Linked DNA regions of Homo sapiens: all the other regions are linked to region 4. The links come from fine-mapping of genetic effects on gene expression. A gene starts in region 4. Each other region holds a variant in brackets. All regions are shown on one strand. Distances are from middle to middle.

Evidence for each region. PIP is the estimated chance that this variant, and not a neighbour inherited with it, causes the effect.
Region 1: its variant is fine-mapped to the expression of PLIN3 in whole blood (TOPMed, PIP above 0.99).
Region 2: its variant is fine-mapped to the expression of PLIN3 in whole blood (TOPMed, PIP 0.94).
Region 3: its variant is fine-mapped to the expression of PLIN3 in whole blood (INTERVAL, PIP above 0.99).

What each region holds. Positions count from the first base shown.
Region 1 is chr19:5,200,985-5,209,119 of GRCh38, reverse strand. PTPRS (protein tyrosine phosphatase receptor type S) reads left to right here. Exons shown (of 38, transcript NM_002850.4): 36 at 729-883; 37 at 1,063-1,198; 38 at 2,278-3,612. The coding sequence ends at 2,346. Among named protein-coding and RNA genes, the nearest start is that of PTPRS-AS1, 27 kb to the right of the region's middle. The variant C/G (reference allele first, on the strand shown) is at 3,473.
Region 2 is chr19:4,947,641-4,955,640 of GRCh38, reverse strand. UHRF1 (ubiquitin like with PHD and ring finger domains 1) reads right to left here. Exons shown (of 17, transcript NM_001048201.3): 12 at 4,868-5,030; 13 at 4,645-4,782; 14 at 1,153-1,291; 15 at 819-991. Among named protein-coding and RNA genes, the nearest start is that of KDM4B, 17 kb to the left of the region's middle. The variant G/A (reference allele first, on the strand shown) is at 4,883.
Region 3 is chr19:4,893,007-4,901,141 of GRCh38, reverse strand. ARRDC5 (arrestin domain containing 5) reads left to right here. Exons shown (of 3, transcript NM_001080523.3): 2 at 4,266-4,471. Among named protein-coding and RNA genes, the nearest start is that of ARRDC5, 5.8 kb to the left of the region's middle. The variant T/AT (reference allele first, on the strand shown) is at 4,813.
Region 4 is chr19:4,864,464-4,872,598 of GRCh38, reverse strand. It overlaps PLIN3 (perilipin 3), which reads left to right and starts at 4,932. Exons shown (of 8, transcript NM_005817.5): 1 at 4,932-4,990. RefSeq lists silencers at 2,231-2,310, 2,187-2,351, 4,775-4,954, a cis regulatory region at 2,032-2,518 and enhancers at 5,172-5,672, 5,615-5,964.

The DNA of each region.
Region 1 (8,135 bases), 340 kb before region 4:
TGATGGTGTTGGGTGGAACTCGGGACGGCAGAAGGTAGTGAGTTACCAGCAGTGGGTGGTAGCAGTGGCACTGTTATTGGATGGTGGAAGATGATGGTGTTGGATGGTGGACGATGAAAGATGATGGCACCATTGGGTTGTAGAAGATGAGTCATCATTGATGAGCTATGGACAGTGATGGAGTTGAGTTGTGCTGTAGGGCCCCGAAATGGCACAGAGTGGAAGATGACAGAGGATCATGGTGAATAGGAGCTGGGAAGGGCAGAGCTGGTTGCACTATGGGATGGCAAAGGATGGAGGATGGAGGTGCTGGATGTCATACAGGAAATGTGGGGAGAGGAACAGCTGGGTGGCAAGAAGTGGTGAGGATGAGGTTGGAGCATCTCTTATGGAAAGCAGTACCATTGGATTGTGAAGGACGGTAAGTTGTCAGGGTAAATGAATGGCAGAGAGTGTACAAAATGGGGGTGAGGGCCGGGCCTGGTGGCTCATGCCTGTAATCCCAGCTAATCGGGAGGCTGAGGCAGGAGAATTACTTGAATCACTGGAGGTGGAGGTTGCAGTGAGCCGAGATCACGCCATTGCACTCCAACCTGGGCGACAAGAGTGAAACTCCATCTCAAAAACAAACAAACAAACAAAAAATGGGGGTGAAGATAGGGAGGATGGAGAAAAACCCCCATGGCCGCTGCTGACCTGATAACAAGATTGGGCTCTCTGCACTCTAGGATGGCCAGTCCCGGACTGTCCGGCAGTTCCAGTTCACAGACTGGCCGGAACAGGGTGTGCCAAAGTCGGGGGAGGGCTTCATCGACTTCATTGGCCAAGTGCATAAGACTAAGGAGCAGTTTGGCCAGGACGGCCCCATCTCTGTCCACTGCAGGTGAGCTCCCTCGAGTGTCCCAGCTTTTGGCCCTGCTGGGGAAACTGAGGCCTGGTGGGGACAGCCCCAAGCTTAGGCTGTCCCATCTGGGCTGTTAGAGTCCTCGGGGAATCGGGTGGTCAGATCAGGGCTCCCCAGCACCTGCCCCTGAATGGCTGTGCTCACTTTACTGCCACCAGTGCCGGCGTGGGCAGGACGGGCGTCTTCATCACGCTTAGCATCGTGCTGGAGCGGATGCGGTATGAAGGCGTGGTGGACATCTTTCAGACGGTGAAGATGCTACGAACCCAGCGGCCGGCCATGGTGCAGACAGAGGTAAAGATGGGACAGGGAGGGGAGGCAGCCTGGCCTCACGCCCCGACTGCCCCTAAGCTCCAGTTTCCTCCTCTGTGAGATGGGTACAGCCACCTGGGACTCTCTGGGTCACTGTGGGTAGACGGTCCACAGACCCCTCCCGCACTGGAAGGGGACCAGTAACCCTTTTAACACAACAGTCAGCTGAAGGTCAAAGGCGAGAAGTGGCCCTTGGAGTGGACAGAGATGGGCTCATTGCAGTCCCCAAGTCACAGCAAGTCTGTGGCTCAGCCTGGACCCTGCCAAGAACCACTGACCCCCAAGTCCAACCAATGTACAGATGGGGAAACTGAGGCCCAGACTCCTAGCTTCAAGGGGAATGTTCCAGTGGAGGGGGTTCTGAACAGCAGCCATGTCTTAAAAGATGAGTAGAGGGGACCCGGCGTGGCAGCTCACACCTGTAATCCCAGCACTTTGGGAGGCTGAGGTGGGAGGATCGCTTGAGCCCATCCTGGGCAACACAGAAAGACCCCATCTCTACAAAAAAAATAGAAATGAGGCTGGGTGTGGTGGCTTATGCCTGTAATCCCAGCACTTTGGGAGGCCAAGGCAGGCAGATCACCCGAGGTCAGGAGTTTGAGACCAGCCTGGCCAACATGGCGAAACCCTGTCTCTACTAAAAATACAAAAATCAGCTGGGCATGGTGGTACACGCCTGTCATCCCAGCTACTTGGGAGGCTCAGGCAGGAGAATCACTTGAACCCAGGAGACAGAGGTTGCAGGGAGCCAAGATGGCGCCACTGCACTCCAGCCTGGGCAACACAGCGAGACTCCGTCTCAAAATAAATAAAAAAGAAAAGATGAATAGGGCCTCCAGGCAGACGGGAGGAGAGGGCGTTCCGGGTGAAGAGCCTGGCTGTGTTAGGCAGAGAGGTGTGGCATAGCTCACTTCATTGTGGGAGGGCCGTGGGGGCCAAAGAGACCTTCTGCAAGAGACACGCACAAGGCTGAGGAGCTTGGCCTGCTCCTGAGGGCGATAGGGAGCCCTGGGAGGCGTTAGAGCAGCGGAGGTACTAACAGGTCACCTCTGCTCCCCCAGGATGAGTACCAGTTCTGTTACCAGGCGGCACTGGAGTACCTCGGAAGCTTTGACCACTATGCAACCTAAAGCCATGGTTCCCCCCAGGCCCGACACCACTGGCCCCGGATGCCTCTGCCCCTCCCGGGCGGACCTCCTGAGGCCTGGACCCCCAGTGGGCAGGGCAGGAGGTGGCAGCGGCAGCAGCTGTGTTTCTGCACCATTTCCGAGGACGACGCAGCCCCTCGAGCCCCCCCACCGGCCCCGGCCGCCCCAGCGACCTCCCTGGCACCGGCCGCCGCCTTCAAATACTTGGCACATTCCTCCTTTCCTTCCAATTCCAAAACCAGATTCCGGGGTGGGGGGTGGGGGGATGGTGAGCAAATAGGAGTGCTCCCCAGAACCAGAGGAGGGTGGGGCACAGACCATAGACGGACCCCTCGTCCTCCCCCAGCGGTGGTAGGGGGACCCGGGGGGCTCCTCCCCGCTCTGCAGCCTGGGGACACTGGGCTGGGACCAGAATCCAGCTTTCTTTTAAAACTCTCAGTGTAACTGTATCCCGTGACATTTCATTTTTTTTAAATAGTGTATTTTTTTTTCCATTTTTTTTTTTAAGAGAAACAAACAAAAGACTCGCCAGTCAATGACTTTCAAAGAGAACTAACTTTGGCTTATTCATATTCTGTTCAAAGACAGTCTATTTTTTCACTGTAGAAAGCGTCCTTGTGTGATAGTTACGTTCGCAAACGCGCACGCCAGGCCCATGGCTGTACCTTGGCTTTTTTTTTTTTTTTTTTTTTTTTAATTTTTCCTACCATCAGAAAGTGTGCTTTGCTCACAGAAGAATGGGATGTCCTTTTTTCTTTCTTGGCTTTTTTTTTCCCCCTTTTTGTTTCATTTTTATAAATTAAATTTTCAGACATATCAAATACAGTTCTGAGGGTAAGGTCATGGGGGAGCTCGGACCCAGTGGCGTTGGGTGCGGTTGAGGGGGACGCTGCTGTAAGAGGAGAGAGATGACAGTGGTCCTCCTCTGAGAGCCTGAGCTGTCTCCCCGTCTCCCGCCCCCAAGGAGACAGAGAGGATCCTACTTCTTCGGGGACAGTGGCTGTATGGCTGTGCTGCCCCACATCAGGGACCCTTTCCCCCTGGGACTGTGGGGCAGTTTGGGAGCAAAACCAGAAGGACAGGCCCCCCTCTACCCGCCTACCCTGAG[C/G]AAGCGAGTTGTTCCTCTTTGTACAAGGGCAGGTCTGCGGTTACTTTCAACACTGTTTATTCCAGCGGAAGCAGCCGGGTGGTTTTCCCACCCCCGTGTATGTAGATATATCGACTTTGTATTAAAGGAAGATCGTCTGACCCCGGCCCATTGTGGAGTCTTTGTTGCGCCCCTGCCTGTCCAGTTTCATCCCTGGGGTGGAGGTCGGTGGGGTCCTGGAGAGCTGATCTCGTTTCCTTGTGTGAACAGTCAGAGGAGGAGTTGGCCCAGAGAGGTGGTGGTGCTTGTCCAAGACCACACACCGCTGAGGCGGGTGGATCACAAGGTCAGGAGTTTGAGACCAGCCTGGCCAACATGGTGAAACCCAGCCTGGCCAACATGGTGAAACTCAACTCTACTAAAAATACAAAAATTAGCCAGGCGCAGTGGCGGGCGCCTGTAATCCCAGTTACTCAGGAGGCTGAGGCAGGAGAATCGCTTGAACCCAGGAGTTAGAGGTTGCAGTGAGCTGAGATCATGCCATTGCACTCCAACCTGGGTGACAGAGTAAGACTGTCTCAAAAAAAAAAAAAAAAAAAAAACTCAAAACACCGATGAAGTGGCCAGGCCAAGATTTGAACCCAAGCCCTGGTCCTGTAGGGGCTGCCTCGTGTTCTCATTCTAATAAGTGACCATGACTGAGAATTCACCATGGGCCAGACACTCTGAGATAGAAGTTACCAGCCCCTTGGCCAGGCGCGGTGGCTCACGCCTGTAATCCCAACACGTTGGGAGGCCGAGGCAGATGGATCACCTGAGATCGGGAGTTCGAGACCAGCCTAGCCGACATGGCAAAACCCTGTCTCTGCTAAAAACACAAAAATTAGCCAAGCATGGTGGCACCTGCCTGTAATCTCAGCTACTCAGGAGGCTGGAGCAGGAGAATCACTTGAACCCAGGAGGCGGAGGTTGCAGTGAGCTGAGATCATGCCATTGCACTCCAGCCTGGGCGACAGAATGAGACTCCCATCTCCAAAAAAAAAAAAAAAAAAAAAAAAATCCCCATTTACATATTAGGAAACTGAGGCTCAGGGAGGGGCACACAATGAGTTTGAGGTGGAGCTGGGATTCGTACCCCAGCCCATCTCACCCGCAGCCCTGAGCATCACACGGTGCTGCCTTCTCGAAGTGCCCTGGGGAAGAACTGAGTCCGTGGAGGGAAGCAACAGGTTGGGGACACTCTGCTCCACCCCTAGGCCACTCAATGAGCAGATCCATGCACTGAGCCAGAATCACATCCCTGGGGATGGAGAGTGAGCCATTTTGTATCTATACCCTTGCCTGAGTCACTTCTTGCTTGGGCATAGAAGCCACCCACAGGAGCCAGAGATAGGATGAAAGAGCCCCCTATGACCTCAGGGAAGTTCCAGGAATGAGAAGGGGTGATCTTAGTGACACCAGGGACCCAGCTCAGGGAAGAATAGGACTATGTCTCTTAGAAACCAACAGATCAAGGCCGGGCGCAGTGGCTCACGCCTATAATCCCAGCACTTTGGGAGGCTGAGGCGGGCAGATCACGAGGTCAGGAGATGGAGACCATCCTGGCCAACATGGTGAAACACCGTCTCTACTAAAAGTACAAAAAACTAGCCGGGCATGGTGGCAGGAGCCTGTATTCTCAGCTACTTGGGAGGCTGAGGCAGGAGAATCCCTTGAACCTGGGAGGCAGAGGTTGCAGTGAGCCAAGACCATACCACTGTACTCCAGCCTGGGTGACAGAGCAAGACTCCGTCTCAAAAAAAAAAAAAAAAAAAAAAAAAAAGAAGCAACAGATCAGGTAGTCAAAAAAATACAGATGTGACTAACATCATTAATAAGCTTGGCCAAAAATATTTAACAAACCCTATTATCCCCTCCTACTCTAACATTCTCAAACGCACATGGAACATTTGTGAAAATTAACAGAGATCGGCTGGGTGCAGTGGCTCACGCCTGTAATCTTAGCACTTTGGGAGGCCGAGGCAGGAGGATTACCTGAAGTCAGGAGTTCAAGACCAGCTTGGCCAACATGGTGAAACCCCCCGTCTCTACTAAAAATAAAAAACATTAGCTGGGTATGGTGGCACACGCTTGTAATCCCAGCTACTCAGTGGGCTGAGGCAGGAGAATCGCTTGAACCCAGGAGGAAGGAGGTTGCGGTGAGCTGAGATCGCGCCTCTACACCCCAGCCCAGGTGACAGAGCAAGACTTCATCTCAAAAAAACAAACAAAAAATATTAACAGAGATCTTCACAAATTCCAAGAAACAAATATTAGATGAGGTATCCTGATCTTGGCTCTGAAGAGTAATTAGCCTCCCCTGGAAGGGGGAGGGAAATTTTAAAATACTTTTTTTGGCGGGGAGGTGGGTGGGGGACAGAGTCTCGCTCTGTTGCCCAGGCTGGAGTGGCTGAATCTCAGCTCACTGCAACCTCCATCTCCCAGGTTCAAGCGATTCTCCTGCCTCAGCCTCCTGAGTATGTAGCACTACAGGCGCCCACCACCACACCCAGCTAATTTTTTTTTTTTTTTGTATTTTTAGTAGAGACAGGGTTACAGGGTTTCACCATGTTGGCCAGGCTGGTCTCAGACTCCTGACCTCAAGTAATTCGCCCACCTCGGCCTCCCACCGAAGTGTTGGAATTACAGGTGTTAGCCACCGTGCCCAGCCTTAAAACACATTTCTAAATAAGGTATGTGTTAAATCAATGTAATCCGGGCGCAGTGACTCATGCCTATCATCCCAGCACTTTGGGGTGAACATAGGGAAACACTGCCTCTGAAAAAAAAAAAATCAATGTGAAAGTTACAAAGTGTTTCAAATTGAACAATTCAAATAGTACATCATGAAATGCATAACCTGCGGGATGCAGCCAATGGTGTGCTCAGAGAAAAATTCATAGCCTTGAACACATTTACCCTTTTTTTATTTTGAGGTAGGAGGGTCTCACTTTGTTGCTTAGGCTGGTCTTGAACTCCTGGCTTTAAACAATCTTACTACCTCAGCCTCCCAAAGTGCTGGGATTACCGGCACCAGCCACTGTGCCTGGCCTCTTTAACACACTTATAAGAAAAGAAATTTTGAAAATAAGTCAACTTTAAAAAGTTCATGAACCAAGTTTTCAATCAAATCACTAGAAAATAAACTCAAATAGAAAAAAAAACCCCAAATAAAAAAAAATGAAGATAAAGATGGAAATAACTTTTTTTTTTTTTTTTTTTTGAGACAAGAGTTTCACTCTTGTTGCCCAGGCTGGGGTGCAATGGTGGATCTCGGCTCACTGCAACCTCTACCTGCCAGGTAAGAGTGATTCTCCTGTCTCAGCCTCCCAGGTAGTTTGGATTACAGGCACCCATCACCATGCCCGGCTATTTTTTTTGTATTTAGTAGAGATGGGGTTTCACCATGTTAGTCAGACTGGTGGTGAACTCCTGACCTCAGGTAATCCACCCGCCTTGGCCTCCCAAAGTGCTGGGATTACAGGCGTGCGCCCCTGCACCCAGCCTGGAAATAACTCTTAATTGGGCATTTTGATATGGCTCTTTTGCATTGACAAGATCAAAAACCTTTTCTTTGAAAACTCCAAAAACCTTAGGCAAAGATAATAAAAAAGAGAAAGTACAAATAATATCAGAAAAGTGGGGATAGAACACTTTAGAGATGAAACCTTTTTTTTTTCTTTTTTTTGGTAAGATGAGTATTGGGAGAGCCAAGGAGGAAACAGACAGGGGCAGTGGAGGCTACCGGTAGCAGAACTGGTATGCAAAAAATCCCCTTCTCTCCCTCCATAGGATAGTTGTAAGAACAGACAGTGAAGAGAGAAAAAGATGGGGAAGCTGGGTGCAGTGGCTCACACCTATAATCCAAGCACTTTGGGAGGTTGGGGCAGGTGGATCACCTGAGGTCAGGGGTTCAAGACCAGCCTGGCCAACATTGTGAAATCCCATCTCTACCAAAAATACAAACATTAGCAGGGTGTGGTGGTGCATGCCTGTAATCCCAGCACTTTGGGGGCTGAGGTGGGCGGATCACTTGAGCCCAGGAGTTCAAGATCAGCCTGGGCAACATGGCAAAGCTCCATCTCTACCAAAAATACAAAAAATTAGCCAGGCATGGTAGCACACACCTGTAGTCCCAGCTACTCTGCAGGCTGAAGTGGAAAAATCACCTGAGCCCAGGAAATCAAGGCTGCAGTGAACTGTGATCATTCCACTGTACTCTAGCCTGGGTGATGGAGAGACCTTTCTCAAAAAAAAAAAAAAAAAAAAAAAGAGAGAGAGAGAAAGAAAATAGTGAAGTGATAGTAAAGATCTATGCCCCATACAAGGCACCTTCCCAGATAGTTTTCCAAGTGAGTTTTGCCAAATCCGCAAGGAAGAGATGATTTGCACCTTTTGTCAACTGTCAGCTTATGAGGTGAAAAAAGAGATGGTACCTAAACTGTACGAGGACAAACTAAGGAGGAAAAAAGCACATTCCACTTATGTGCCTAGATGCAAAAAGGCCAAGAAAATTTCAGCAATGGAAATCTAACATCTCATTAAAAGAATACAATGTTATGACTCAGACAGATTTATGGAATGCAAGGATAGTTTGACTTTAGAAACTCTGAGTGAGAACAGATTGGTGCTTTTGGAGGACAAG
Region 2 (8,000 bases), 83 kb before region 4:
GGAGCTGGGGAGAAAGCCCTGGGAAGAATGTGGCCTGAAGGAAATGGGAAGAGAGGGACCACTGAGATGGCCTCGGCCACAGCTGAATCCTGAGACCTGCACCATCCTGAGACGTCACCATCCACAGCAGAGGAGAAATGGCAGGTGGGACTGAGTGAAGGACCTGGAGCTGGGAAAGCATCCTGGGTGAGGCGGGGGGCCTGATGTCACCCCGAGGTCCTCCCGAGAGAGGGCGGGAGAGTGAGACTCAGAGACTGGAAGAAGATGCGCTGTGGCTGTAAAGGGGGAGGAAGGGGCCCCGAGCCGAGGGATACAGTGCCTCTAGACCTTGGGAAAGGCAGAAATCTGGTTCTCCCCTGGAGCCCCCAGGAGGGCCCAGCCCTATCCCTGCCCTGACTTTAGCCCAGCAAGGCCCATGTCGGGCTCCCAGCCCCAGAGCTGTGAGATGTGAGTCGCTTTGCACTCCTAGGCTTGGGGTCACTTTGCAACAGCCCCGGGAGACAGAGACAGAAGGTAGGATGGCAGGGGGTGCCGGAGCTGGGGAGCGGGTGCAGGGGCTGGGGAGCAGTTGCCGGGGCTGGGGAGCGAGTGCCAAGGCTTGGGAGGGGGTGGGAGTGACAGTTTCAGGGCCAGGGTTTCAGTCTGGGGAGAGGATAAAGTTCTGGAGGTGGTGATGGTGGTGATGGTTGCACAACCACAAGAATGTACTCAGTGCGACTGAGCTGTACACTTGAAAATGGGGAACATGGGAAACAAGCCCCACACATTTTACCGCAGTCAACGCAAATCAGGGCGACGAGTGAGCCGTGCGAGCCTACCGGGCTGCCGCTCGCCGGCCGGTCCTTGAGTGACGCCAGGACCTCATTCCACAGCTTGGCGTTGCTCTTGTCCTCTCTGATGAGGCTGCTCTGCTGGGCCGTGAGACTGTAGGGCTCCACCTTGGTTTTCTTGGATGTCCGGCGCGGGGACCCGGCCCTGCTCGGGCCACCTCCTGGAAGAGGGTGGGGCGCGTGAGGGAGGGGCGCGTGGCCCGAGCTGCCGGAGAGACAGCCACCGGCTCCCACGTCCACACGACCTCAACCCCACACCCGCGAGATGCCCACCTGCTCCCCCACACACAAGACGCTCACCCCACACCCACGAGATTCTCACCTGCCGACTTCCGCTTCCACTTGCCCTTGCCCGTCCTGGGGGACGCGAAGCCCCCCTCCTGCTGCTCCTCCTCCTCCCTCTTGCTGTTCTCCTTCTCTCGCTCTCGGTTGGCCAGGGCTTCCAGGTAGCCTTCTGGATACTTCAGGAGGAAGAGGGACAGCCGTGAGTCAGGCTTGGGGCCCACACGCTATGCAGAGCCCGCTCTTCCAGCCTCCTTGCCAGGTCTGGGTTTCCAGACACACCTGACCCCCAATCCCCCTGAAGAGCACAGGGTAGTCCTCCCTTATCTAGTTTTGCTGAGGTTTCAGTGACCCAAAGTCAACTGAAAATGTTACATGAAATATTCTAGAAACAATTCCTAAGTTGTAAACTGCACACTGTTCTAAGTGTCCAACGTCTAGAGGCGCTGCATCCCTCGGCTCGGGGCCCCTTCCTCCCCCTTTACAGCCACCTCACATCACGCACACTGCATGATGAAACATTGCATCGTCCCACAGGGATGTGAACCTTCCCTTTGTCCAGCTTCTCGATTCTCCTGCCTCAGCCTCCCGAGTAGCTGGGATTACAGGTGCCCGCCACCACACCCAGCTAATTTTTGTATTTTTAGTAGAGATGGGGCTTCACCATGTTGGCCAGGCTGGTCTTGAACTCCTGACCTCAAGTGATCCACCTGCCTCAGTCATCCAAAATGCTGGGATTACAGGCTAAATATAAAATATTAATATTAAACATTCTAATTTTTATTAAATAAGCCCAACACTTTGGGAAGCCAAGGCAGGGGGATCGCTTGAGCCCAGGAGTTTGAGACCAGCCTGGGCAACATAGCAAGATCCCCTCTCTACAAAAAAATTTAAAAAATTAGCCGAGCCTGGTGGTGTGCATCTGTAGTCCCAGCTACTTAGGAGCCTGAGGCAGGAGAATCACTTGAGCCCAGGAGTTTGAGGCTGTAGTGAGCTATGATCACACCACTACACTCCAGCCTGGACAACAGAGCGAGACCTGGTCTCAAAAATAAAAATAATGGCCCCAAAGTGCAAGAGTAGGGATGCTGACAATTTGGAAATGCTAAAGAGAAGCCTAAGATGCGAAAGAGAGGTTGTGAATCTCATACTGTGCCTAATTTATAGATTAAACTTAATCACCAGTCCAAACGTATGGAAAAAAAATTATACATCAACGGTTTGGTACTCTCTGGTTTCAAGCATGTGCTGAGGACCTTCGAAGTGTCCCCCTGGTAAGGGGGGGACGCCTGTGCATTCAGCTCTTCGTTAACTGTGGAGCCTCGACCAATGGCTAATCCTGTCTAATCGCAAAGCTTCACTACGAACAAGAGGAGACTAAGAGGAGATAATCGGCCAAGCTCCACCTGGCAGGGTCGGGGTAAGCGCATTTAATGTGAGCGAACGCGGGTGACGTGTTCAGCATCACATCCCACCAATAAGATCTCGTTGTCTTTACGATTTCCATGAGGGCAGGCAAACTTTTGCTTCCAGGGACCCTAGGGTGAATGTTTTCAAGCCTTATGGGTCTGGACTGCAAGCGCTGAGAGCAGGCTACTTCAGTGAATGAGCATGACTGTTTCCCCAGAAACTTCACTTACGAACACCTGACCCCAGGGCCTTAGCTGGCCAAACTCTGGTGATTCTGAGGACTCGGGCCCTCTCTGTCCTCACAGGGCATCATCGCTCCATTTCGAAGGTACCTATAAGTCACGTCTGACTCTCCAGTGTCTCAGGAAATCTTTGAGCTCCTTTCACATTCTTTATGTTACAATGGAGATGAGAGTCATAAAAAAAAAAAAAATCCTGGCCAGGGTCAGCGGCTCACACCTGTAATCCCAGCACTTTGGGAGGTGGAAGCAGGTGGATCACCTGAGGTCACCAGCCTGGCCAACATGGCGAAACCCCGTCTCTACTAGAAATACAAAAATAGCTGGGCATGGTGGTACACACCTGTGATCCCAGCTATGCAGGAGGCTGAGATGAGAGAGTCGCTTGAGCCTGGGAGGTGGAGGTTGCAATGAGCCGAGATCATGCCTGCACTCCAGCCTGGGCGACAGAGTGAGACTCTGTCTCCAAAAAAAAAAAAAAAAAAAGGCTGGGAGCGGTGGCTTACGCCTGTAATCCCAGCACTTTGGGAGGCAGAGGCGGGTGGATCACCTGAGGTCAGGAGTTCAAGACCAGCCTGACCAACATGGTGAAACCCCGTCTCTACTAAAAATACAAAAACTGAGCCAGGCGTGGTGGTGGGCACCTGTAATCCCAGCTACTCAGGAGGCTGAGGCAGGAGTATGGCTTGAACCTGGGAGGCAGAGGTTGCAGAGAGCCGAGATCCCACCACTGCACTCCAGCCTGGGCGACAGAGCAAGACTCCATCTCAAAACAAACAAACAAAAAAAATCCTACTCCCAACAGAAGCTGAGGCTGTCTCTCCCATTACTATTTTTCTCTCTACTTCCTCAGCTTCTGAAATTCCCCACCGTACAAATCCATTCAAAAGACAACCTGAGTGACCCCCTCGGGTAGAGGACATCAGGCTCTCGACAGCAATTAAGATTCCTTAAATAGTCTCACGATTCGTCTGCTGTAAAGCTTCTCCCTGCAATGGACAGACCACATCCTAACTGGTGCTGAAATGCTGCGCCGCTTGTTGAGTAAGTTCTCGGCAGTTCCCATCGCCACAGGGAGGTGAGAGATGGCTCGGGGATATTCATCTTCCCCATTTTTCCGTCCAGATCTCTCTGGAATCCACCAATTTGGTTGGTTTGTTTCTGCTTTTTTTTTTTTTTTTTTGTGATGAGCCAAGAAGTGAAAACAGAAGACACCAGATGCCTGACTGGTCTGCAGCGATCCCTTTACCAACAGAACGAAGACAAGCAAGTCTGGTTTTCAACTCTGAGATGCGGCAGGCGGAGAAGCAAATGTCATCTGCGCGTTCCCATCACCCCCTGGCTGGAGGATTTATATGGGACAGCTAGGGGGGTGCCATCAGCTGGGGCCCTGGAAATTATTCTGGATCAGAGAGAAACCAGGGAAGCATGGGCCCGAGACGGGAGGCCTCCTGGAGTGTTCAGCGCGGTCCAGAACATGAGCACCACAAGCCCAGGCAGGGCCCATTCTGTGACCCACAATGACCTTCAAGGATGACAGCCTCCAAGCAGGACACATGGTGCCCAGGCGGGAAGTGTCAGAGCCGTCATGGAGCCCGGCAGTGCTCCTGTTTTGAGATGGACTCTCATTCTGTCACCCAGGCTGCAGTGCAGTGGCGCAATCTCAGCTCATTATAACCTCCACCTTCTGGGTTCAAGCAATTCTCCTGCCTCAGCCACCTCAGTAGCTGGGATTACAGGCACCCGCCACCATACCCAGCTAATTTTTGTATTTTTAGTAGAGATGAGGTTTCACCATGTTGGCCAGGCTGGTCTTGAACTCCTAACGTAAGTGATCCATCCGCCTTGGCCTCCCAAAGTGCCATCCCCCATCCCAGACACACCTGCATGGTCAGCCCCAGCTTCTTGATCCGGTCCTTCCCCTCCTTCGTCCAAGGGCCAGGCTCATCATCGTCCCTCCGCAGAAGGTAGCGCCACACGAGAAACCCGGACTTCCCCTTCTCGGGCCAGTATTTCACAACCTGCAGAGAGCGGGCATCAGCGTCAGCTCCATCAGAGGCAGCCCCGGCGGGGACAGAGCCCCCGGCCTCCTCAAGGGGCACTCACCTTGTAGATGCCATC[G/A]TAGCGGTTGCCCTCAGCGGGGGCGTACTTGCTATTCTTGCCACCCTTGACATTGCGCACCACCCTGACCGGCTTCCCCGACCGCCAGTCCTTGGCCTCGGCCCCTTCTTGGTCATTGATGGGAGCAAAGCAGTTGAGAGCCAGCGCCCTGCAGGGAGAGTCAGGACCCCACGCATTATAGGTGAGGATGTACCCCCCAAAAAAGGAAACACAGGAGCCGGGAGTGGTGGCTCAGGCCTGTAATCCCAGCACTTTGGGAGGCTGAAGTAGGCAGATCGCCTGAAGTCAGGAGTTCGAGACCAGCCTGGCCAACATGGTGAAACCCCGTCTCTGCTAAAAATGCAAAAGTTAGCCGGGCGTGGTGGCGCGTGCCTGTAATTCCAGCTACTCAGGAGGCTGAGGCAGGAGAATCGCTTGAGTCTGGGAGGCAGAGGTTGCAGTGAGCCGAGATTATGCCACTGCACTCCAGCCTGGGTGACAGAGTGAGGTTCTGTCTCAAAAAAAAAAAAAAATTTAATATTTCAAAGTTATATATGTATAATTTATAAAATAGGCCACACCCAGCCTACTATTTATTTGAGACAGGGTTGCTAGGTGCCGTGGCTCACGCCTCTAATCCCAGTACTCTGGGAGGCCAAGGCAGGAGGATTGCCTGAGCCCAGGAGTTCAAGACCAGCCTGGCCAACGTGGCAAAACCCCATCTCCACAAAAAAAAAAAAAAATAGCCAGGCGTGGTAACATGCACCTATAGTCCCAGCTACTCTGGAGGCTGAGGTGGGAGGATCAGTGGAGCCCAAGGAGGTGGAGGCTACAATGAGCTACGATCACACTGCTGCACTCCACCCTGGACAAGAGAGGGAGACCCTGCCTCAAAAAAAACAAAACAAAGCACACACACATATAAAAAAAAAACAAACAAAAAGAGAAAGGGTGTCTCACTCTGTCACCCAGGCTGGAATGCAATGGCATGATCACGCCTTACTCACTGCAGCCTCCTGGGCTCAAGCCATCCTCCCACCTCCGGCTCCCAAGCTGGGACTATAGGCCCACACGACCATAACCAGCTAACTTTTTTGAAATTCTTTTTTGTAATTTTAATTTTTCATAATTTTATGTTGCACAAGTAGGTCTCAAACTCCTAGCCTCAAGCAATCCTCCCACCTCAGCCTCCCAAAGTACTGGAACGACAGGCATGTGACACACCACCCATGGCCCATGTCTTTTTTAGGTACTTAGTTACTGACTTTGTGAGAGTGTGTGTGTGTGTGTGTGTGTGTGTGTGTGTCTATGTGCCAATTGTTTTAGATAATGGTATGAAAAACATTACATCTTACATTTTTACCTAGCCAGAGGTCTCCTAAAGACATTTTTCAAAGCGGAGTTAGAGTGACAAGAATAGATCATTTATAAAGCTCTTCATACAAACAGGCAGAAGAGATTTCCAGAAAGATGGTTCCAATTTGTATTTCTACCAACAGTGGAATGCTATTTTACCCCTGACCTATGTCAACATTTTAGAATTTTTGGCCAACTTTATAGGGGAAACAAATAGTATCTCACCACAGCCTCAGTTTGTATTTGATTACAACTTTGCACTTCTTTTGTGCATTATTTCCATATTCTCTTTTTTTTTTTTTGCTCTGTCACCCAGGCTGGAGTGCAGTGGAGCAATCTTGGCTCACTGCAAGCTCCGCCTCCCAGGTTCATGACATTCTCCTGCCTCAGCCTCCCGAGTAGCTGGGACTATAGGCACTTGTCACCATACCAGGCTTTTTTTTTTTTTTTTTTTTTGTATTCTTAGTAGAGATGGGGTTTCACCATGTTAGCCAGGATGGTTTCGATCTCCTGACATCGTGATCCGCCCACCTCAGCCTCCCAAAGTGCTGGGATTACAGGCGTGAGCCACCACGCCTGGCCTCTTTGCTTTCTTCTACGAGTTTCTTTCTTTCTTGAGATAGAGTCTCACTCCTGTTACCCAGGCTAGAGTGCAAGAGTGCAATGGCATGATTTCGGCTCACTGCATCCTCCGCCTCCTGGGTTCAAGCAATTCTGCCTCAGCCTCCCAAGTAGCTGGGATTACAGGTGCCTGCCACCACACCCAGCTAATTTTTGTATTTTTAGTAGAGACAGGGTTTCACCATGTTGGCCAGGCTAGTCTTGAACTCCTGACCTCAGGTGATCCACCACCTACCTCGGCCTCTCAAAGTGCTGGGATTACAGGCGTGAGCCACCGCACCCAGCTCTTCTATGAGTTTCTTGTTGATTTGCAACAGCTCTTTATATGATAAAGACACTATCATCATGTGTCATGTCAAGAACTCCTCCTAGTCATCTGCCTTTTAATTTATAGGATTTATTTATGTAATATATTTATAATGTTTAGATAATCAAATCTGTCTTTTCCTTTGGGCTTTATGATGGTTTTTATGCTGGAAAAGTCCGCCCCCATCCTGTAATCAGGGGCCAAGCAAATTCTGGCCTATCACATACTTTTGCAAATAAAATTCACTGAAACACAGCCATGCTCACTCACTTACATATGGTCTATGGCTGATTTTGTGCTACGACACAAGAGCTGAAGAGGTTCTCTGAATAGACTGTGTGACCTGCATAGCTGAAGCAATCTATTTTGGAGGGGTTTTTTTTTTTTTTTTTTTGACAAGATCTCAGTCTGTTGCTCAAGCTGGAGTGCAGTGGTGCAATCTCAGCCCACTGCGGCCTCAACCTCCTGGGCTCAAGTGATCCTCCTGCCTCAGCCTCCTGACTAGCTGTGACTATAGGCACATGCTAACACACCCAGCTAATTTTTTTATTTTTACTTTTTGTAGATGGGTTGTCTCACTACCTTGCCCAGGCTGGTCTTGAACTCCTGAACTCAAGGTATCCTCGAGCCTCGGCCTCCTGAAGCGCGAGAATTACAGGCGTGAGCCACCAGGCCCAGCATTAAGATACCTACTATCAGCCAGGCGCAGTGGCTCATGCCTGTAATACCAATATTGGGAGGCCGAGGAGGGAAGATCACCTGAGGTCAGGAGTTCGAGACCAGCCTGGCCAACATGGCAAAACCCCATCTCTACTAAAAATACAAAAATTAGCCAGGCGAGGTGGCAAGCACCTG
Region 3 (8,135 bases), 29 kb before region 4:
TTGAGACGGAGTTTTGCTCTTGCTGCCCAGGCTGGAGTGCAATGGCGCAATCTCGGCTCACCGCAACCTCCTGGGTTCAAACGACTGTCTCTTAAAAAAAGAACTAGCAATTTTTTTTTTTTTTGAGACTGAATCTCACTCGTTGCCCAGGCTGGAGTGCAGTGGCGTAATCTTGGCTCACTGCAACCTCCACCTCCTGGGTTCAACCGATTGTCCCGCCTCAGCCTCCCGAGTAGCTGGCACTACAGGCGTGTGCCACCACTCCCAGCTAATTTTGTATTTTTAGTAGAGACGGAGTTTCTCCATGTTGGTCAGGCTGGTCTTGAACTCCCGACCTCAGGTGATCCGCCCACCTTGGCCTCCCAAAGTGCTGGGATTACAGGCATGAGCCACCACACCTGGCCATTTTAGACTTTAAAAATTTAGATGAGATGGTCTGTTCCACCAGAGGAGTACTCTGCAAAGAGGGAACAACCAAGCACAGAACTGAGTGATAGGAGGGACTCCAGCCATGCAAATATCCTGGGGACAAATGTCAACTTACCAGACACTAATACTGAGCAATTATGTGACCTCTCTGGCTCTCAGTTAACCAATCTATAAAATGGGAGTAGGAAGAGGTCCTATTTCATAAGATTGTGTTAAGGACTTAATGATTTAATGGCACATAAAGCGCTTAGAATAATGCCAGGTATACAGTAAATGCTTAAAAATTGCTATTTCTGGCCAGGCACAGTGGCTCACACGTGTTATCCCAGCACTTTGGGAGGCCAAGGTGGGCAGATCACCAGAGGACAAGAGTTCAAGACCAGCCTGGCCAACATGGTGAAACCCCGTCTCTACTAAAAATACAAAAAATACAGCTGCTCAAGAAGCTGAGGCAGAAGAATGGCGTGAACCCGGGAGGCGGAGCTTGCGGTGAGCCGAGATCACGCCACTGCACTCCAGCCTGGGCAACAAAGCGAGACTCCGTCTCAAAAAAAAAAAAAAAAAAAAAAGAAAGAAACAGAAAAAAAAGACTGCTGGCCGGGCGCGGTGGCTCATGCCTGTAATCTCGGCACTTTGGGAGGCCAAGGGAGACGGAGGTTGCAGTGAGCCAAGATTGCACCACTGCACTCCAGCCTGGGCAACAGAGTGAGATTCAGTCTCAGAAAAAAAAAATGTTGCTAGTTGTTTTCTTTTCTTTTATTTATTTACTTTTTTGGAGACGGAGTCTCCTCTGTCGCCCAGCGTGGAGTGCAGTGGTGCAATCTTGGCTCACTGCAAGCTCCGCCTCCCGGGTTCTCGCCATTCTCCTGCCTCAGCCTCCTGAGTAGCTGGGACTACAGGTGCCCGCCACCACGCCTGGCTAATTTTTTTTTTTTTTTTTTTTTTTTTGTAGAGACGGGGTTTCACCGTGTTAACCAGGATGGTCTCGATCTCCTGACCTCATGATCCACCCGCCTCGGCCTCCCAGAGTGCTGGGATTACAGGCGTGAGCCACCGCGCCCGGCCGCTAGTTCTTTTTTTAAGAGACAGTCTTTACTCTGGCACCCAGGCTGGAGTGCCATGGCGTGATCTCAGCTCACTGCAACCTCCACCTCCTGGGTTCAAGCAATTCTCCTGCCCCAGCCTCCTGCATAGCTGGGATTACAGGCGCATGCCACTATGCCCTACTAATTTTTTGTATTTTTAGTAGACACAGGGTTTCACCATGTTGGCCAGGCTGGTCTCAAACTTTTGACCTCAGGTGATCTGCCCCACCTCAGCCTCCCAAAGTGCTGGGATTACAGGCATGAGCCACCATGCCCATCCCAGGTTTTTCATTTATTTAATAAACATTTTTTTTTTGAGATGGAGTCTCACTCTGTCGCCCAGGCTGGAGTGCAGTGGCGCGATCTCGGCTCACTGCAAGCTCCGCCTCCCGGGTTCACGCCATTCTCCTGCCTTGGCCTCCCGAGTAGCTGGGACTACAGGCACCCGCCACCACGCCCAGCTAATTTTTTGTATTTTGTTTATTACAGACGGGGTTTCACCGTGTTTGCCAGGATGGTCTCGATCTCCTGACCTCGTGATCTGCCCGCCTCGGCCTCCCAAAGTGCTGGGATGACAAGTGTGAGCCACCATGCCTGTTCCAGGTTTTTCATTTATTTAATAAACATTTATTGAGTGCCTACTGTGCACAAACACCGTGCTAGGTGCTGGGGATGCAGCAGTGATGAAAAAAACACAGCCTGGGCCGGGCACGGTGGCTCACGCCTGTAGTCCCAGCACTTTGGGAGGCTGGGTGGGCAGATCTCCTGAGGTCACAAGTTCAAGACCAGCCTGACCAACATGGCAAAACCCCATCTCTATGAAAAATACAAAAATTAGCCAGGTGTGGTGACACGCGCCTGTAGTCCCAGCTACTTGGGGCGCTGAGGCAAGAGGATCACTTGAGCCCAAGAGGTCCAGGCTGAGTGACAAAGTGAGACCCTGTCTCAAAAAAAAAAAAAAAGGCCAAGCCCGCCTGATGGCTTATGCCTGTAATCCCAGCCCTTTGGGAGGCCAAGGCAGGTGGATTATCTGAGGTCAGGAGTTCGAGACCAGCCTGGCCAACATGGTGAAACCCCATCTCTACTAAAAATACAAAAATTAGCCAGGCATGGTGGTACACACCTGTAATTCCAGCTACTCAGGAGGCTGAGGCAGGAGAATTGCTTGAACCTAGGAGGCGGAGGTTGCAGTGAGCCAGGATCACGCCACTGCACTCCAGCCTGGGTGACAGAGTGAGATTCTGTCTCAAAAAAACAAAAAAGAAAGAAAGAGACAGGGTCCCTAGTATCTTTGGGATTGCCATGGGCCAGAGAAGATAGAAAATGCTAAGAGGATTTTCGAGAAGTGCAAGAAGGAAAATGAAACAAAGGTCATGGAAATGGCAGTTGTGTGAGAGTCTGCTTCCTAGACCATCACTCAGTTGGTCAATCAATATGTATTAAGCACCCACTGTATACCATGCACTGAAGGTCAAGCTCTATGAGGGCGAAAGTTTTCTCTGCCTCACATACTACTTTGTTTATTTATTTATTTATTTTTAGAGATGGCGTCTCGCTCTGTCACCCAGGCTGGAGTACAGTGGCATGATCTCGGCTCACTGCAACCTCCGTCTCGCACGTTCAAGCTATCCTCCCACCTCAGCCTCCTGAGTACCTGGAACTACAGGTGTGTGCCACCACACCCGGCTAATTTTTGTATTTTTAGTAGAGATTGGGTTTCGCCATTTTGGCCAGCTTGGTCTCAAACTCCTGACCTCAGGTGATCCGCCCGCCTTGGCCTCCCAAAGTGCTGGGATTGCAGGCGTGAGCCACTGGGCCCAGCCAGTTTGTGCCTATTATCCCAGCACTTTTGGGAGAGTGAGGCAGGAGGACTGCTTGTGGCCAGAAGTTCAAGACCAGCCTGGGAAACATAGCAAGACCCTGTCTCTACCAGAAATTTAAAAATTAGCCAGGCATGGTGGCATGGGCCTGTAGTCCCAGCTCTTCTGGAGGCTGAGGTGGGAGAATCACTTGATCTCAGGAGTTGGAGGCTGCAGTGACCATGATCACACCACTGCACTGCAGCCTAAGCAACAGAGCCAGACTTTGTCCCTACAAAAAGAAAAAAAAAGATATATTTGTTGAACCCTGAAGGCCTGACTTCCACTTTCTCAGGCTCAGGGCAGGGATATGCAAGAGCCCTTCAGTGGTTTCGGGTGACAACTCCAGGCATGTCACCCACCCCAGGGCATCCCACTCCAGCCCAGCTGCGACCTGATATTTATAGGCCCAGCAGGTCCTAAAAGCATAGAGCTCAGTTTAACTCAGGAGGGACAGACAAGCCAAGCCCAGGACCCACCTCCATGCCAAAACAATAAATCAAGCAAAAAAAGGCCAGGTGCAGTGGCTCACGCCTGTAACCCCAGCACTTTGGGAGGGCAAGACGGGCGGATCGCCGGAGGCCAGGAGTTCAAGACCAGGATGGACAACATGACAGAACCCCATCTCTGTCAAAAATATAAAAATTAGCCAGGTGTGGTGGTGCACGCCTGTAGTCGCAGCTACTCAGGAGGCTGAGGCAGGAGAATCGCTTGAACCTAGGAGGCAGAGGTTGCTGTGAGCTGAGATCACACCACTATACTCCAGACTGGGTGACAGAGTGAGACCGTGTCTCAAAAATAAATAAATATAAAAATAAAGCAAAAAAAAAAAGAAGAAGAAGGAAAAAAGATTCTAGAACCTTCTGATGGCATCGGTGTGTTTTGCTTTCAGATAATTGGTTAAGTGCAGGCAGCCACACCTTTGACTTCCATTTCAACTTACCTCCCAGGCTTCCTTCTACCTTCACCAGCAAATTTGGCCATGTCTTCTATTTCGTACAAGCTTCCTGCATGGGCAGGGAACACATTTTAGCCAAGAAGAGGATGTACTTATTGGTTCAAGGAACTTCCACCTTCCACAAAGAAACCCCATTCCAGGTACCGATGGGGGAAAGGTGGAGGTGGGAACAATCTCCAAGCTCCAAGGAGGAAGAGGGAAGGTGGGCAGGCAGGGGACAGAGAAGGTCCCATGGGGAGAAGGGAAGGGTGTTGGCAGCTTCCCAGGCCCCGAGATTTCACAAAAGGTGAGTCAGAAACCTTAGGGCAGCTGGAGGTCAAGGCTGCAGTAAGCCATGTTTGCACCACTGCACTCCAGCCTGGGCGACAGAGTGAGACCCTGTCTCTAAAATAAAATTATATATATGTGTGTGTGTGTGTGTGTGTGTGTGTGTGTGTGTGTGTGTGTGTAAAAAAAAAAAAATATATATATATATATATAT[T/AT]TTTTTTTTTTTTTTTGAGATGCAGTCTCGCTCTGTCACCAGGCTGAAGTGCAGAGGCATGATCTCGGCTCACTGTAACCTCCGCCTCCCAGGTTCAAGCGATTCTCCTGCCTCAGCCTCCTGAGTAACTGGGATTACAGATGTGCACCACCATGCCCAGCTAATTTTTGTATTTTTAGTAGAGACAGGGTTTCGCCATGTTGGCAAGGCTGGTCTCAAACTCCCGACCTCAGGTGATCCGCCTGCCTTGGCCTCCCAAAGTGCTGGGATTACAGGCGTGAGCCACCATGCCAGGCCAACATTTTTTTTAGAAAAGAAACAAGGGCAGGAACTAAGCCAGTGGTTTTCAACTGTGGCTGTTTTATCCCCATAAGGGACATTTGGCAATGTCTGGAGACATCTGTGGTTGTCTCAACTTGGGGGGTGCTCCTGGCATGGAGTGGGTGGAGGCCAGGGGCGCTGCTCAGCACCCTGCAGTGCCCAGGACGGCCCCACCCAGGAGAATGGCCCAAATGTCCACTTGTCAAGAGGGAGACACGACCCTGGGGAAAAGCCAAGAAAAGGCCCCACAGGGTGACCCTCAGGGTGGGAGAGAGGCATGTACACTCAGTGGCCCTCCAGCACTGACCTTGGAGCTCCCAGACAATAGAGGTGGTGGCCTCAGTCCAGGAGAAGGACGGGCAGTGCAGCCTCCGCTTGGCTGAGTGAAGGACTCGTTCTGGATCCCTTCCCGAGTCCAGGTGCAGAGGCGGAAGTCGAGGTGGGAGGAGGGACGTTGGCCAAAGTCACTTCACATCTCCAGGGAGTCATTTGTCATCAGAGCATTGGGACAGGACGACAAATGTCAGAGGGCTGGCATTTTTTTTCCTTTTTCTTTCTTTCTTTTTTTTTTTTTTTTTTTTTTTTTGAGACGGAGTCTCACTTTGTCACCCAGGCGGGAGTGCAGTGGCGCAATCTTGGCTCAATACAACCTCTGCCTCCCAGCTTCAAGTGACTCTCCTGCCTCATCCTCCCGAGTAGCTGGGATGAGAAGTACCCACCACCACGCCCAGCTAATTTTTGTATTTTTTAGTAAAGACGGAGTTTCCACATGTTGGCCAGGCTGGTCTTAAACTCCTGACTTCAGGTGATCCGCCTGCCTAGGCCTCCCAAAGTGCTGGGATTACAGGCGTTAGCCACCGCTCCTAGCCGGTACCGCTATTAAAAAAAAAATGTAATAGCTCATTTGGAAATAAGGGACATTGGTAGCTCTTGGCACCTCCTGATACCTCCTTCAGGACCAGGACAGAAATACCAGCTTTGTCTGGAGTTAGGGCAGCAGGTTCTTTCACACCTGCAGGGTCCTAACGCATGCTACGAATTTTCGAATAAGACTGCAGGGATTTACAATGTAACCAGATTCAATTAACCTTCAGGAGAGGAGGGGGAGCTCCAGCTGCTCCTGAAAAGGCTGAAGAGAAGCCAGAGGCAGAAAAGTGGGAGGTGAGGTCAGAGGGGGTCAAGGGTCTGCCTGAGTTCTCAAAAAGGAAACATACCTGACTTCCTGCAGTATGATTTTCTTCTTCTTCTTCTTCTTCCTCTTCCTCTTCCTCTTCCTCTTCTTCTTCTTCTCCTTCTCCTTCTCCTTCTTCTTCTTTTTTTTTTTTTTGAGACAGTCTCATTCTGTCGCCCAGGCTGGAGGGCAGTGGCGCGATCTCGGCTCACTGCAAGCTCTGCCTCCCAGGTTCATGCCATTCTCCTGCCTCAGCCTCCCGAGTAGCTGGGACTACAGGCACCCACCACCATGCCCGGCTAATTTTTTTTTTTTTTTTTTTTTTTTGAGACGGAGTCTCGCTCTGTCGCCCAGGCTGGAGTGCAGTGGCGGGATCTCGGCTCACTGCAAGCTCCACCTCCCGGGTTCACGCCATTCTCCTGCCTCAGCCTCCCAAGTAGCTGGGACTACAGGCGCCTGCCACTACGCCCGGCTAATTTTTTGTATTTTTAGTAGAGACGGGGTTTCACCGTTTTAGCCGGGATGGTCTCGATCTCCTGACCTTGTGATCCGCCCGCCTCGGCCTCCCAAAGTGCTGGGATTACAGGCGTGAGCCACCGCGCCCGGCCAATTTTTTGTATTTTTTATTAGAGACGGGGTTTCACCGTGTTAGCCAGGATGGTCTCAATCTCCTGACCTCGTGATCCACCCGCATCAGCCTCCCAAAGTGCTGGGATTACAGGCGTGAGCCACCGCACCGGCTGTCTTCTTCTTCTTCTTTCTTCTTCTTCTCCTCTTTTTTTTTTTTTTTTAGGCAGAGTCTTGCTCTGTCGCCCAGGCTGGAGTGTAGTGGCGCTATCTCGGCTCACTGTAACCTCTGCCTCCTGGGTTCACGCCATTCTCCTGCCTCAGCCTCCCAAGTAGCTGGGACTACAGGTGCCCACCACCACGCCTGGCTATTTTTTTTTTTTTGTATTTTTAGTAGAGATGGGGTTTCACCCTGTTAGCCTGGATGGTCTCAATCTCCTGACCTCGTGATCCACCCACCTCGGCCTCCCAAAGTGCTGGGATTACAGGGGTGAGCCACCGCACCCGGCCTTCCTTTTTGGTTTTTTTTTTTTTTTTTTTTTTTGGAGACAGGGTCTCACTATGTTGCCCAGGCTGGTCTTGAACTTCTGGGCTCCAGTGATCCTCCCCCCTTGGCCTCCCCAAAGTGCTGGGATTACAGGCATGAGCCACCATGCCCAGCCAGCAATGTTTTTCAAATCACAGGTCACAACCCAGTCGTGGGTTGCAAAAATCCATTTGGTGGAATACAAGCATTTTCTTTTCTTTTCTTTTCTTTTTTTTTTTGAGACAGAGTCTCACTCTGTTGCTCAGGCTGGAGTGCAGGGCTGGATCTCAGCCTCACTGCAACCTCAGTCTCCCAGGTTCAAGTGATTCTCCTGCCTCAGCCTCCTGAGTAGCTGGGATTACAGTTGCGTGCCATCACACCCGGCCAACTTTTGTATTTTTAGTAGAGATGGGGTTTCACCACGCTGGCCAGGCTGGTCTCAAATTCCTGACCTCAGGTGATCCTCCTGCCTCGGCCCCCCAAAGTGCTGGGATTACAGGTGTGAGCCACTGCGCCTGGCTATATATATATAATATATATATAATATGTTATATTATTATAATATATTATATATAATAATATATTATATATATTCTAATAATATAATATATATTATATTATTATAATATATATATTTATTTTTGAGACGGAGTCTTGCTCTTTCGCCAGACTGGAGTGCAGTGGCGCGATCTCAGCTAACTTCAACCTCCACCTCCCAGATTCCAGCAATTCTCCCGC
Region 4 (8,135 bases):
AAAAAATTAGCCGGGCTTGGTGGCGGGCGCCTGTAGTCCCAGCTACTTGGGAGCCTAAGGCAGGAGAATGGTGTGAACCCGGGAGGCAGAGCTTGCAGTGAGCAGAGATCCAGCCACCGCACTCCAGTCTGGGTGACAGAGCGAGACTCCGTCTCAAAAAAAAAAAAAAAAAAAAAAAAAAAAAAAAAGAAAGAATTAGGAGTCCTAGAATTGGGAGGGGATGCAGAGGGAAGGAAAGAAGAGAAAGAGTAGAAAATGTCAAAAACAAAGACCTGCTGGGCGCAGTGGCTCATGCCTGTAATCCCAGCACTTTGGGAGGCAGAGGTGGGTGGATCACCTGAGGTCAGGAGTTCGAGACCAGCCTGGCCCACATGGCAAAACCCTGTCTGTACTAAAAATACAAAAATTAGCCGGGTGTGGTGGCGCATACCTGTAATCCCAGCTACTCAGGAGGCTGAGGCAGGAGAATTGCTTGAACCTGGAAAGCGGAGGTTGCAGTGAGCTGAGATCCCACCGCTGCACTCCAGCCTCACTTCCAGACGAAGTGAGACTCTCTCAAAAACAAAACAAAACAAAAAAACCCCAAAACAAACAGAAACCAAAGACCTTAAAGACACATAACTCAAGGTTCAAACCCTGGGGCTGGCAATTTCTGGCTGTGTGACCTGGGGCAAGTTACTCTGCCTCTCTGATCCTTAGTTTCCTGATCCAGAAAACAGAAATCACAGTTGGTTTACCTTGGCAGGCTGAGGTGGGCGGATCACTTTAGGTCAGGAGTTTGAGAGCAGCCTGGTCAACATGGAGAAACCTCATCTCTACTAAAAATACAAAAATTAGCTGGGTGTGGTGGCACGCGCCTGTAGTCCCAGCTACTCGGGAGGCTGAGGCAGGAGAATGGCGTGAACCCGGGAGGCGGAGCTTTCAGTAAGCTGAGATCGCGCCACTGCACTCCAGCCTGGGTGACAGAGCAAGACTCCGACTCAAATAATAATAATAAGAAGAAGTAAATAAATAAATAGCGCCACGTGCTGTGGCTCACGCCTGTAATCCCAACACTTTGGGAGGCAGAGGCGGGTGGATCTCGAGGTCAGGAGTTCAAGATCAGCCTGGCCAACATGGTGAAACCCCATCTCTACTAAAAATTCAAAAAATTAGCCAGGCGTGGTGGTGGGCTCCTGTAATCCCAGCTACTTGGGAGGCTGAGGCAGAGAATTGCTGGAAACCGGGAGGCAGAGGTTGCAGTGAGCCGAGATCGTACGGCTACACTCTAGCCTGGGCGACAGAGCAGAACTCCATCTCGAAAATAAATAAATAAATAAATAATAAAAGAAAATGGGAATCAGGCTGCTGAATAATGTAATGAAATAGCCCAGAAAACAGCAGCTATCTCATTTTTGGTTTTGAGACAGGGTCTTGCTCTGCTACCCAGGCTGCAGTGCAGTGGTGCAATCTTGGCTCACTGCAACCTCCACCCCTCCAGTCTCAAGCGATCCTTCCACCTCAGCCTGTGGAGAAGCTGGGATTACAGGCATGCGTCACCATACCCGGTTAATTTTGTATTTTTGGTAGAGACAGGATTTTGCCATATTGGCCAGGCTGGTCTTGAACTCCTGAGCTCAAGTGATCTGTCCGCCTTGGCTTCCCAAAGTGCTGGGATTACCGGTGTGAGCCACCGGCCAACAGTAGCTATTTCTTTTTTTCTTTTCTTTTCTTTTTTTTTTTTTTTGAAACAGAGTTTCACTCTTGTTGCCCAGGCTGGAGTGCAATGGCACAATCTGGCTCACTGCAACATCTGCCTCCCAGGTTCAAGTGATTCTCCTGCCTCAGCCTCCTGACTAGCTGGGATTACAGGCATGCGCCACCGCACCTGGCTAATTTTGTATTTTTAGTAGGGACGGGGTTTCTCCATGTTGGTCAGGCTGGTCTCAAACTCCCGACCTCAGGTGATCCGCCCACCTCGGCCTCCCAAAGTGCTGGGATTATAGGCGTGAGCCACTGCGCCCAGCCAACAGTAGCTATTTCTTACCTCTCACCCTAGGGCTGTGGGAGGCCAGGCGGGGACTCCTGGGCAGATGTTGCCATCAAGAAGAACCAAAAGCCTGGGAGATGACTCTGTCTCAAAAAAAAAAAACAACAAAAAACGGTGTGGGGCAAAATCACCAGGGCTCATCCCCTAGACCAGAGCTATTTTGTTACTCAAGGCCACTAAGAAGTTAAGGGTTAACAGGCAAATCTCCCACTGACCTTGAATCTTGGATGAGTCACTTCCCCTCTCTGAGCCATCCCAGCCCTCCCCTCCTCCCTCTCTCTCACTCACTGTACTCCAGCCACTGGGGCCTCCTCACTGTTCTAACAGGCAGGGTGTGGTCCTGCCTCAGGGCCTTTGCACGGACTGTGCCTGCTGCCTGGAATGCTGTTCCCCCTAACTGGACATGGTTCCCTCCTGGCCTCTCTCTCTTCTCTTCTTGGATGTCACTCAGAAAGGCCTCCTCTGACCTCCCTACTAAAAACTGCGGCCCCACCGGGTGTGGTGGCTCATGCCTATAACCCAGCACCTTGAGAGGCCAGGGCTGGTGGATCACATGAGGTCAGGAGTTCGAGACCAGCCTGGCCAACATGGTGAAGCCCCGTCTCTACTAAAAAAAAAAAAAATACAAAAATTGGCCAGGCATGGTGGCACAGGCCTGTAATCCCAGCCACTTGGGAGGTCGAGGAACAAGAATTTCTTGAACCTGGGAGGCGGAGGTTGCAGTGAGCCGAGATCGTGCCACTGCACTCCAGCCTGGGTGACAGAGTGAGACTCTTTGACAAAAAACAAGAACAAAATCCCCGCATCCCCCACATTCATCTCGTCCTTTGCTGTCCTACCACGTGACACATTGTAAAGTTCTCTCACTTATGTTGTTCCTTGTTCGTCTCTCCCACTGGGTAGTGTGTGTCACCAGGGCTGGAATTCTTATCTGTTTAGCTCACCGCTGTCCCCAGCGCAAGGACTCAATAAATATGGTTGAATGAGTGAATGAGAAGGAAAAAGCCTGTTACAAATGTCATGGAATGGGGTCTCAGATTCACTTGAGAATCTCACTAGCTGCCTGAAGTTACTTAAATTTAAACATTCAGGCCAAGCGCGGTAGCTCACACCTGTAATCCCAGCACTTTAGGAGGCCGAGGCAGGTGGATCACTTGAGGCCAGGAGTTCGAGACCAGCCTGGCCAATATGGTTAGTCCTCGTCTCTACTAAAAATACAAAAATTAGCTGGGTGTGGTGGCGCGCGCCTGTAATCCCAGCTACTTGGGAGGCTGAGGCAGGAGAACCGCTTGAACCCGGGAGGTGGAGGTTGTAGTGAGTCGAGATCGCGCCATTGCACTCCAGCCTGGGAGACAGAGCGAGACTCTGCCTCAAAAAAAAAAAAAAAATTTAAACATTCAGCTTCTCACTGTGCATTAGCCACGTGGTGCTTTTGGCTACAATGTTGGATGGCACACAATTCTAGAATTGCAGAAAGTTCTATTGGACAGTGCTAGCATAGACCCTGTCCCCACTCACCCCCCCAAAAAAATGCAGTCACAGACACCCAATTTTTCCCATGTTCTTTCTAAAGCTACCAGAAGCTTCATTCTATTCAAATAATTTGGCAGAGGTGGCAAACTGGTGGCCCCTGGGCTGGACAAAGCCCCAGTTGGGTTTCATTTGGTCCAATTGTTCCCTAACAGGCAGGACATGTCTACAGCTTGAACTTCCTGTGGATCTGTGACTCTCCAGGTGGGTCTCCCATAGGGCACTGCTCTCCCCTGCCCCTCTAAGCAGGGCATCACTGCCACCTCCTCAGCAGAAATATTCACCTCCTCCCTGGACCATCTGAGATTGAGACCTTGGTTTATAGACCAAGAGGATAAATAATTTGGGAGGTGGAGAGGGGCGGGGTAAAATCCAAGTGGGGGCAGCTTCAGGAAAAGGTTGATCCAGCAGTCACAGAGCCTGGAGCCTGACCCCTCCATTGCCCCTGGCTGACCCTCTCCAGGCCTCAGTTTCCTTCTCTGCAAAATAGGGATGATTAAAAAGACAATACAGTGCTGGGAGGATGAAGTGGTCTGATGTTGGGCAGATCAGGCCGGAGGCTGGACAAGTTCCCGTGGTGGTTCAAGTCACTCATATAGCTGGGTTGGGCCGGGTGCGGTGGCTCATACCTGTGATCCCAGCAATTTGGGAGGCCCAAGCGGGCAGATCACTTGAGGTCAGGAGTTCAAGACCAACATGGTGAAACCCCGTCTCTGCTAAAAATACAAAAAATTAGCCGGGCGTGGTGGCACGTGTCTGTAATCCCAGCTACTCAGGAGGCTGAGGCAGGAGAATCGCTTGAATCCAGGAGGTGGAGGCTGCAGTGAGCCAAGGTCGCGTCACTGCACTCCAGCCTTAGCGACAGAGCGAGACTGTGTCTCAAAAAAAAAAAAAAAGTGTGTGTGTGTGTGTGTGTGTGTGTGTGTACATATAGCTGAGTCGGAGCCCATGGTGGAGGGCGTGGCCCCTGACGCGCTGGCGAGGGTCACCCTGCAACTCTCCCAGGGTTCTCGCAGCCTCAGTTTGGCCATAGGGGAAATGGGCGACCTGGGGAATCCCAGCACCTGTGCGGCGCCCCCGATCGCACTCACCTCCCAGGGCCAACTTCACAGGGTCCCCAGCTGCGGAGCGGGGGTCCCGTGGCTGGGACAGGCGTGGTCCAAGAGTGCTCCCTCCCCTTCAGGGGCAGGGCGTGGAGTCCTTCCCGGACTTCATGACTTGGCGAGGGGCGGGGCCTAGTGGAGGCGGGGCAGGGAGGAGAGGGGCGGGCCTGGCGCGGGCAATCCCTCAACCTGATTGGTCCCCTCGCCCGTCACTCCAGTGCGCCCCCAACCTACCACGCAGTAAAAGCCACCCCCGCCTCGGCCCGGACGGTTTCCAAGCTGGTTTTGAAGTCGCGGCAGCTGTTCCTGGGACGTCCGGTTGACCGCGGTGAGTGGCGGGGGCGTCTCAGTTGAGCTGGGGGGCGGTGTCCATGGAGTCCTGGGGCACCCCAGGGGCCGGAGGGGTCGGGGAGGGCCTTTCTCGGGGTGGGATTTGCTGGACTCTGCGGCCTGGGGAGGGGTCTTCAGCCCAGGCTGGTCACCCCTCCCCCCAGAAAAATCCAACTTCTGCAACGAAGCTCAGACTTTGAAACCCTCTTCTCACTTCCTGGGACTTTTGAGGGGCGAAAGAGCCCCGTAGAAGGGGTGATATTGAAGGGGGTGGGCTAAATACCGCCCCCCGCCCACCAGGTTTTCTCTAAATTTTGAACAGTTTGCTTTTGGAAACGCCATTTGCAGGCAAGTTTCCTCCTGCGGGCAGAATCTCCGCCCTCCCTTCTGGGGTTTTCAGAGACACCCCCCGCCACCGCAAAGCCCCCTCCCCTACAGATGGTTTTGCCACGGGTGGGGGTGGGGGTTGCCCCAGCTCCTGGCGCCCCCAACTGATTCTGGGGAGGTCTTGGGCAAAGCCTGCCCACTTCCCTCGGGTGGGCGTGGCGACGAGGTGGCTTAAAAGTAGGAAGGCCTATCCGTTAACTGCTTTGGGGTTCTTGTCCCGGCTAGGCCTGGCAGTGGGACCTGGGGCCCTTGGAATTTTGGAAGTCCAGTCTTAGCATGCTCTGAAGTTGCTGGATGGCTGGGTCTGGCCTGGAGCTCCCCTTCTGGAGCCAGCGGCAAGGCAGGTCACTGACCCCCAGGGGTTTCATAGGGTGTTGACATCTGCCATGGCCACCCTTGCTTAAACCAGTTCCAGGAAGTCATGGTGGACAGAGGGGACGGGAGGAAGCTGCCTGAGTCCTAAGTGGGACTTGAGAATCGGTCGAGGCCAGGAGTTTGATGCCTGCCTACCTGGCCCCCTGCCCAGGTGAGCTCAGGCTCCAAAGGAGGTGAGGAGAAGCACAGATTTAGGCAATGATCACTGGGAGGTAGGTATGTCTTCTCACCTGACTTCCCAGTTGGGGGACTTTTGTACCTAGCAGGAAGCTGGTTCCTGGCTGGCTTTACCCCTTTGTCCGTGGAAGCCAGAGTGCGGTGAGATAGTTTATGGAGCACTTACTATGTGCCGGGCACGGATCTGAGCTTCCCCGGAGCAGCGTCTCCTCCAGTCCACAGGGACTCCAGGCTCTTGTGAAACACTTATACACATTTCACAGATGTGGCAAGCAAGACTCCTAGGGGATGCTGCCTTCCCAAACTCCTATTCCTAGTGAGTTGCCAAGCTGGGATTAGAACCCATTCTGGGCTGGGCAGGATGACTCACGCCTATAATCCCAGCACTTTGGGAGGCTGAGGTGGGCGGATCATTTGAGGTCAGGAGTTGGAGAACAGCCTGGCCAACATGGTGAAACCCCACCTCTACTAAAAATATAAAAATTAGCCGGACGTGGTGGCGGGCACCTGTATTCCCAGATACTCTGGAGGCTGAGGCAGGAGAATCGCTTGAACCTGGGAGATGGAGGTTACACTGAACTGAGATCACGCCACTGCATTCCAGCCTGGGCGACAGAGCAAGACTCTGTCTCAAAAAAAAAAAAAGGCCGGGCATGGTGGCTCACGCCTGTAATCCCAGCATTTTCGGAGGCCGAGGCGGGCGGATCATGAGGTCAGGAGATCGAGACGATCCTGGCTAACATGGTGAAATCCCATCTCTACTAAAAATACAAACAATTAGCCAGGCGTGGTGGCGGGCGCCTGTGGTCCCAGCTACTCGGGAGGCTGAGGCAGGAGAATGGCGTGAACCGGGGAGGCAGAGCTTGCAGTGAGCTGAGATCGCGCCACTGCACTCCAGCGTGGGCGACAGGGCGAGACTCCGTCTCAAAAAAAAAAACAAAAAAAAAAAAATGGAAAGAACCCAATCTGGACTCCAGATCTAGTGCTTGCAAAACATCATCATTTTGCTGGGTTCTGCTTAGGGGACATCGAAGCAAGGCCACCAGGAGGTGGGGCCTCATTCCTCTGGGAAAAGATGCTCAGACTCAAGGCCACAGGTTCTTAGGCTCACACCAGAATTCCCCAGGAAAGCAGCCCATAAGACAGGCATGACCTTTAGCCCCATGTTTTTTTTTTTTTGAAACGGAGTCTCCCTCTGTCACCCGGGCTGGAGTGCAGTGGTGCGATCTCGACTCACTGCAACCTCCACCTCCCAGGTTCAAGCAATTCTCCTGCCTCAGCCTCCTGTGTAGCTGGGACTACAGGTGTCAGCCAAAATACACGGCTAATTTTTGTATTTTTAGTAGAGATGGGGTTTCACCATGTTGGTCAGGCTGGTCTCAAACTCCCGACCTTAGGTGATCTGCCCGCCTCAGCCTCCCAAAGTGCTGGGATTACAGGCGTGAGCTACCATGCCTGGCTTTTTCTTTTTTCTTTGAGATGGAGTCTTCCTCTGTCACCCAGGCTGGAGTGTAGTGGCGCAGTCTTGGCTTACTGCAACCTCCGCCTCCCAGGTTGAAGCAATTCCCCTGCCTCAGTCTCCCAAGTAGCTGGGACTACAGGCGCCCGCCACCACACCCGCACCTAATTTTTGTATTTTTAGTAGAGACAGTGTTTCAGTATGTTGGCCAGGCTGCTCTTGAACTCCTGACCTCATGATCCACCCACCTCAGCCTCCCAGCGTGCTGGGATTACAGGTGTGAGCCACCATGCCCGACCCTTTAGCCTCATATTACAGGTAAGATGACCGAGGCCAGAGGAGGGGAAGGCGCCTTGCTCCAGGGAGCATAGCGTAGGTGGAGCTGGGACTCCTGGCTTCCCCCTGAGAATCTCTTCTGATGATGGTGTCCCAGCTTCATTTCACTAGTCCAGGAAAAGGGAGTTGTGGCTTCATCCCGCTTACATAGACTCACCTGGGGAACCCCGTCCTCCCCACACCCCTGACCTGGACTTCATAGCTCTGCGGTGCAGGCAGGCATGTTATCTCACTTTTTAAAAAAAGCCTAAATTTTGGCTGGGTGCGGTGGCTCACAGCTGTAATCCTAGCAGTTTGGGAGGCCAAGGTGGGCAGATCCCTTGAGCTCAGGAGTTCAAGACCAACCTGGGCAACATGGCAAAACCCCATCTACTAAAAAACAAACAAACAAAACAACAACAACAACAAA